Linked DNA regions of Homo sapiens. The protein of the gene in region 1 purifies or fractionates together with the protein of each later gene. This does not show direct contact. Each region holds a gene or a part of one and is shown on either strand. Other genes may lie near its edges.

What was found. Proteins that work in one complex are often made in the same cells at the same time.
Region 2: the proteins of SEL1L3 (region 1) and TMPRSS13 purify together in Homo sapiens (co-immunoprecipitation; one large-scale study listed by IntAct). This does not show direct contact.

The regions. Positions count from the first base shown.
Region 1 is NC_000004.12:25,852,989-25,856,488, reverse strand, and holds part of SEL1L3 (protein sel-1 homolog 3), read left to right. Parts: intron 1-3,500.
Region 2 is NC_000011.10:117,915,903-117,919,402, forward strand, and holds part of TMPRSS13 (transmembrane protease serine 13), read right to left. Parts: intron 2,937-3,500; coding exon 2,507-2,936; intron 1,373-2,506; coding exon 1,268-1,372; intron 1-1,267. UniProt on the Homo sapiens protein: Serine protease. Cleaves the proform of PRSS8/prostasin to form the active protein. Cleaves the proform of HGF to form the active protein which promotes MAPK signaling.

The DNA of each region.
Region 1 (3,500 bases):
ACATATTTGAGGGCTCAAGCATTTTTCAGGGCCCAGCTCTGTTGCGTGCAAAATGGATCAGTATGTTGCTTTCAAGGTGGAACATCTATTGTAGCTGCCTAAACCACATAATTTGAGGGGCACAGATGCCCCTCTTCACCCCAAATATCTTGCTTAGAGTTGCGGTGCATTTAGACTGTGCTTTTAAGGCATTATCTCCACAAAGCTGGTGTAGAAATACAGATACGTGACCTTACCTCAGTATTTTTTCATTATCACAGTAACATGGATGAACTTGCCAGATGAACAGGAATTCAGCAGAGGGTCGAGGGATGAGAAATCTTAAAAATTTAATTTGTATTTTTGGTGTGGAGAAATGGAAACGGTCTAGAATGTAGGGCAGTTGTCTGAAAAGGTCTAGAGGGACCAAATAGCTGGGAGAAGTTTGCCCCAAATGGTTAAGGTGGGTGCCAAGGTGCCACCTTCTCTGACCTCACAGTTCCCCAGCTCAGCTCTGATCCCCAGGGACCAATGAGGTGCCAAAGGGTAAGGGCTCTTTGGAAGGAATTAACGAGGCTGGGAGAAAAATAGAGAAATGATGGGGGCCCCTTACAAGAGAACTTACGAGTATAAGAAGAAGGCAGTGGGGACTCAAAACTGATCAAGTCATTTGGTTTATATGCAAGTGCCCTCAGGGCCACTGAGGCACCTGGCAGAAATGCCCATGCCCAGTGCTTTTTTTTTTTCCTGAGACGGAATCTCGCTCTGTTGTCCAGGCTGGAGTGCAGTGGCACAATCTCGGCTCACTGCAACCTCCACCTCCCAGTTTCAAGTGATTCTCCTGCTTTAGCCTCCCAGGTAGCTGGGATTACCGGTGCCCGCCACCACACCTGGCTAACTTTTTTTTTGTATTTTTAGCAGAGACAAGGTTTCACCTTGTTGACCAGGCTGGTCTCAAACTCCTGACCTCAGGTGATCCACCCGCCTCGGCCTCCCAAAGTGCTGGGATTACAGGCATGAGCCACCGTGCCCAGCCCCAGTGCTTTATTTCAGCAAGAAACACTTACTAAATTCTTACTGTGTGTCAGACTCTATCTTAGAAGCTGGAAACATAACAATGACATGGACTCTGAACTCATAATTTCTAAACAAAGGAACATGCAGATAAATTTTTAGCTTGTGTTAATGCAACCTGGCATGTGAAAATACCTATGAAGGCTGGACACGTGTCATGCCTGTAGCTGGAACTCTTCAAGTTAATTGCCTTATTTTCCTGGCAGGAAACAGCTTATAACCACACACATGACTTGAGCCAGGAAGTCAGCTTCAGCTTAATCAATATTTAGAGTGTGATGTGTTGCTAATCAGTGTTGGTTTTGTGCATAGGAAAGGTAGCCACGACTCGTGGTGAATCAGCTGCCCACAGGTCTGCTACAAGCCACCGGATGCCAGCTTCCTTCATTGCATGGGTGCCTCAAAGCACCTTCTTGAAGGGTTTAGACCATGTTCTGCACAGGCCATGCAGGGTGATTTTGAGGCCCTCTTTGGGGCCAACACACCCTCATTAACTTAAGGAAACATTGCCCCACCCCGAAGTTTCTCTTCTCTTGTACTCCAGCTGTCATTCAAGCTTCTCCTACTTGTCAAACAATCCATCTCAGTCCTTAAAATTTGATCTCTTTGCCTAGCTTAACTTCATGTTATCCTCTGACTTAGATCTTTTCTGAAAGAAACAATAGCAAAATGTCAACACTCTCCACCAGGGAACCTTTTAGAAAAATACAGAATCAAGCCCCATCAACTACACACATATGAAATGATGCCCAGTTGAGCTATTCACCCCGTTTCTCCTATATGAGAACTCCTAACAAAGCATATCTTCTGTCACCTTTTGTTCTTCAAAACTCTATCTGGGATAATAGCTTGATAATTGGCCAGGCGCTGTAGGCTCATGCTGTAATCCCAGCACTTTGGAAGGCCGAGGTGGGTGGATCACCTGAGGTCAGAAGTTCGAGAGCAGCCTGGCCAACATGGTGAAACTCGGTCTCTACTAAAAATATAAAAATTACCCGGGTGTGGTGGCACGTGCCTGTAGTCCCAGGTACTCAGGAGGCTGAGGCACGAGAATCACTTGAACCTGGGAGGCAGAGGTTGCAGTGAGCTGAGATTGTGCCACTGCACTTGAGCCTGGGCGATAGAGGGAGACTCAGTCTCAAAAAAAAAGCTTGATAATTTAGAAAAGCAGTTCGCAAACTATAGGCCTGTGGGCCTGTCCAGTCAGCTGCCTGTTTTTGTAACCAAAGTTGTATGGGACCACGGCCACACCCATTCAGTTATGTGTTGTCCCTATGGCTGTTTCAAAGTGTCCCTGCAAAACCTAAAATATTTACCATCTGGCTATTTTTCTTTTCCCAAGAAAGTCAGCTGACCTCAAATTTAGAATAGCACTATCCAGTTGAAATACAATGTGAACCACAAATTTCAAGCCACATATATCATTTTAAATTCTCTAGTAGCTATGTTAAAAAAGTAAAGAGAGGCCGGGGGCAGTGGCTCACACCTGTAATCCTAGCACTTTGGGAGGCCGAGGCAGGTGGATCACCTGAGGTCAGGAGTTCGAGACCAGCCTGGCCAACATGGCAAAACCCTGTCTCTACTGAAAATACAAAAATTAGCTGGGCATGTTGGCACATGCCTGTGATCTCAGCTGCTCAGGAGGCTGAGGCAGGAGAATCGCTAGAACCCGGGAGGCGGAGGTTGCAATGAGCCGAGATTGCCCTATTGCACTCCAGCCTGGGCGACAGAGCGAGACTCCATCTCAAAAAAAAAAAAAAAAAAAAAAAAAGGTAAGAAGAGCAGGCATAATGAATATTAATGTATTTTATTTAACTCAGTGTATCCAAATATTGTCATGTCAACATACAATTAATATAAAATTTATTAATGAGATATTTTGCAGCCCTTTTTTTTATACAAAGGGTTTGAAATTCAATGAATATTTTACACTTACAGGACATCTCAAATCAGACCAGCCACATTACAAGTGCTTAATATGACTTGTGACTACCATGTTGGATAACATATGTCTAACACCTATATACCTTGGGGTAACTTTTACTGCACCTGAGACTTTGAAACAGGTGAAAATGAAATAATCTTCATATAAGTATATGGAGAGTTTTTTTGAAACAGAATTTGAAGGGACGGCTCTGTGGAGAGTACACGGTGAAATGTGTATATGCCTTCTTATTTTTATTTTTATTTTGGAGGGGACAGGGCCTTACTCTATTGCTCAGTCTGGAGTGCATTGGCACTATCATAGCTCACTGTAACCTTGAATTTTGAGGCTCAAGTGATCCTCCTGCCTTGGCCTCCCAAAGCACTGGGATTACCAGCATGAGCCACAACACCTGGCGTGTATGTATGTCCATTATCCACAATGTTATAAGCATGGACCATCAAACAAAACTGAAACCACACTCAGGGTGCTGCATTAATTAATGAAGAAAAGTGGACTGTTG
Region 2 (3,500 bases), on another chromosome or scaffold:
CTTTATGTGCATTATGACAAAGACCACCCCACCCAGTCAGACTGGTGGGGAAACTGAGGCTCAGAATGTTAATGGACTTGTCGAATTCACACAGCCTGTCGGTGGCAGAGCCAGGGTCTGTGTGGCACTAAAGCCTGCTCTGCCAGCACACTGCCCCTCCCTCAGAATCCCCTTCAGCAGCCCTGCCAGCAGACGTTTCCACACGCTGGTCCACTCCACCCTTCACCACTGGTGCTGCCTCTTTAACAGAATCCTTACTCTTTGGCCTGGGGTTTAAAGCTCTCTACAGCATGGCCCAGCCTTGCTGAACCAAACAGACGGCCCCAGGTCCCTGATAGTTCCTTCTCCACTTTGGTTAGGCGGGTCCCTTCCTCTCCCCCATGCTGTCCTTGCCACCTGGTTTCCCACATTTTCTGTGGCTGCTCATTCGCTCAGATGCCCTGCTGGGCATAATTGCTGTCCCACCTTCCAGGTCTTCATCTGGCCCCACAGCTGTAAGAAGCTATCCCCTGCATCCAACCCACACAGCTGTCATCCCCTCCTCATAGTCACACTCAAATGCATTTGCCCTTCAAAATTTCCAGCTATTCCCCCAGGAGACTGTAATCTCTCTGAGGACAGGACAGAATAATGTACATGCACATTTGCGCTGCCTAAAGTTTCCCACTGTGCTGGGCTCATAGTGGACCTCTGAGCAGAGAGCCCTGGGGCATGCCTGGGTATCTTTGCTGAAGAGAATGGGCCTGAACCCCTGAATGCTGAACACGTCATCCCATTGACTGAATATCCTTGACAGACTTTTTCCAATCAGTGTTTTCATGTGTGTTTTTTTAATAGCTAGTATTTGTAGATTTTGTTCCAGGAATTGTGCTGTTGTCTTATTTATTCCTCATAATCTAATGAAGTTGGAATGAGAACTTACGGGACACATAGTAATGAAATGGGTGAATGAATTTTGTCCCATCTGAAGATGCAGAAACTGAGCTCAGGGTGGTTAACTAACTTGCCCAAGTAAGCTGCATAGTAAGTGGCACAGATGAGAGCCAAGCTCAGGTTCCTCTGACTTCCACACTGTTAACCTGGATACCCCACAGGGGCCCCGGGGGCAGCACAGTCCAAGGCCATTTGCAGGAGTGTCCCTCTCTGGACACAGTAGCCGGGTGAGTGGGTGCTCCCCACACCTGTCTCCCCTGCCTGCCCCCATCCCTGGGTCCCACTCTGCCCAGCAGTGCCCAGAACCCACCCCTGCACCCTCCATTCAACTCACAGAGGATGATGAGCGAAACCACCAGGGCAATGAGGAGGAGCACGCACCCGATGAGCGGTAGCTGCTTCTGGCCCTCCCGCCAGGTGAACTTGGGCAGGCTCGTACCTAGGAGCAGGGCGGCAGCAGGGGAATATGAGGCTGGAGAGGAGTCCGACGAGATGGAGAGGGTGGGGGAAACAAGACTGTGGCCCAGGAGGGCCCCGTGAGGACCACTCCACCCCAGAAGTTGGAATGAGATTTTATGGGGCTCAAAGTCAATTGAATGAATGAATGAATTTTGTCCCATCTGAAAATGCAAAAACTGAGCTCCCCCTGCCTGGCACCAGCAGCGATCTTTTACTGTGCTCTCCTCTGGGCCAGCCAGGCACTTTGCCTGTGTTAATTCTCACAGCAACCTCATGAGCAGAGTCTTATTAGGCCCCTTTCTATAGATGGGGAAACTGAGGTTCGTGGAAGTGAAATCACTTGCCCAGGGTTACTTGGTGAGTTAGTGGCAGAGTAGGGATTCCAGTGCAGTGGGTCTGATACCAAAGCACTTCACCCACCCTGGAGAGGGCAAGGCTGTGGGATGGGCCCCAAACTTCGAGTGATCCTCCAAAGCCACGTATCATCCAGGCCTGTGTGTATTGTGGTGGTGGGGACAGTCTGAATTCTGGGATGGGAGGAGGGCAGCATCGGAGTGGGCAGGAACACTGATTCCTTAAGGGAAGACCCAGTCCCCAAGGCCTATTCAACCTCTCTGACTCCCTAGTAGCTAAACCACACAACCCACAATTTGGAAGGCTGGGGATGGACTTGCACACCTGGTCAGAATCTCTCCTTTTCCTCCCCCACCCACAGATGGGCCCACTGATCATGACCTTGCTCCACTGCAGACCCCAGCTTCTTAGGCAGACCCACAGGACAGCACAAGGAGAGAACCCTGTGACTAACTGGGAGACCTTGCTATTGAAACCGGTGCTCTGACCTGGGTTGTGCAGACTCCAGGGTGACAAGCTGCTTTGTTAGTCCTGGCTTCTTATCACCTACCCCCTTTGCCCCTCATTTTCCACTGTCTCAGGTTTTCATGTAATGTTTCCTTTTTGCCTCCACCCTCAGGTCCCTCACTTCCCACCCCCCTACCTCCCCTTCCCCGCATCGTTGTCTGCTATGAGAGCAGAGCACACTGGCTCTGAGATTTCCTCCCTGCCCATGGGCTGCTTCCCATCTCTCGTGGCTTCCCTACAGCATCCCCCTTACCTGGGCTCTCCCTGGTGGCCCTGGTTGCTGGTGCTGACCTGGCAGGAGATGATCGGATGGGTACAGCCCCCACTGGTGTTGCTCTAACAAGGTACACTCTGGTTGGGGAGGTTGTCACCGAGGCTGACCTGGCGGATGATGACCTGCCGGATGAGGACCTGGAAAGTGATGCCAGAGCCGGAGATGCCCGGGCTGGAGATGCCTGGGCTGGAGATGCCTGGGCTGGAGATGCCCGGCCTGGAGATGCCCGGCCTGGAGGTGTACCAGCTGGAGATGCCTGGGCTGGAGATGCCCGGCCCGGAGGTGTCCCAGCTGGAGATGCCTGGGCTGGAGATGCCTGGGCTGGAGATGCCCGGCCTGGAGGTGTCCCAGCTGGAGATGCCTGGGCTGGAGATGCTCCAGCTGAAGGTGTTCTTGCTGGAGATGCATTCTGAAAGCAGATCGAAGAGTATCCCACAGGCTGCTCCCCTGCCAACCCACCCCAGCTGTCAGCTGTGCTGCACTAGGAGATGAATGCTCTGGGGCAGCAGCTAGGGGTTGAGCAAAGCCCCCCGGACAAGGAAGCATCTGAGAGGAGGACTGTGTCCAAGGATAGAATGAAAGCTCAAAGAACCTGCTGTCCCCCAGCTCCCCTAGGGGCTCCCCTGCCACATAGGACCTGCAGAGATGGGTAGAGGGCAATGGGCCAAGTGCCCGGGGGTTGGGGGTCACCTGCTTAGGCTACGCATGTCTAGGAGGGGTTAAAGGAAGAGGCTGCTGGGTTGGTCACTCACTCTGAGACCTCGTATCAAGGGAATGTGGTCCCCCATGGGGAAAGCAAAGACCCCTTCTGCCCTCTTCCCTTCCACCTCCTACATCCGCATCCTTTTCTTTCATGTATGTGTGTTAGATTATAAAATATTGTTCTTACTATGAGCTGTAATCGCTAGTTAAGCACTAGTTAAGAAAAGCCCTGACCTGCCAACTGAAGGGGCTGAGTGCCATTGTGAGCTCA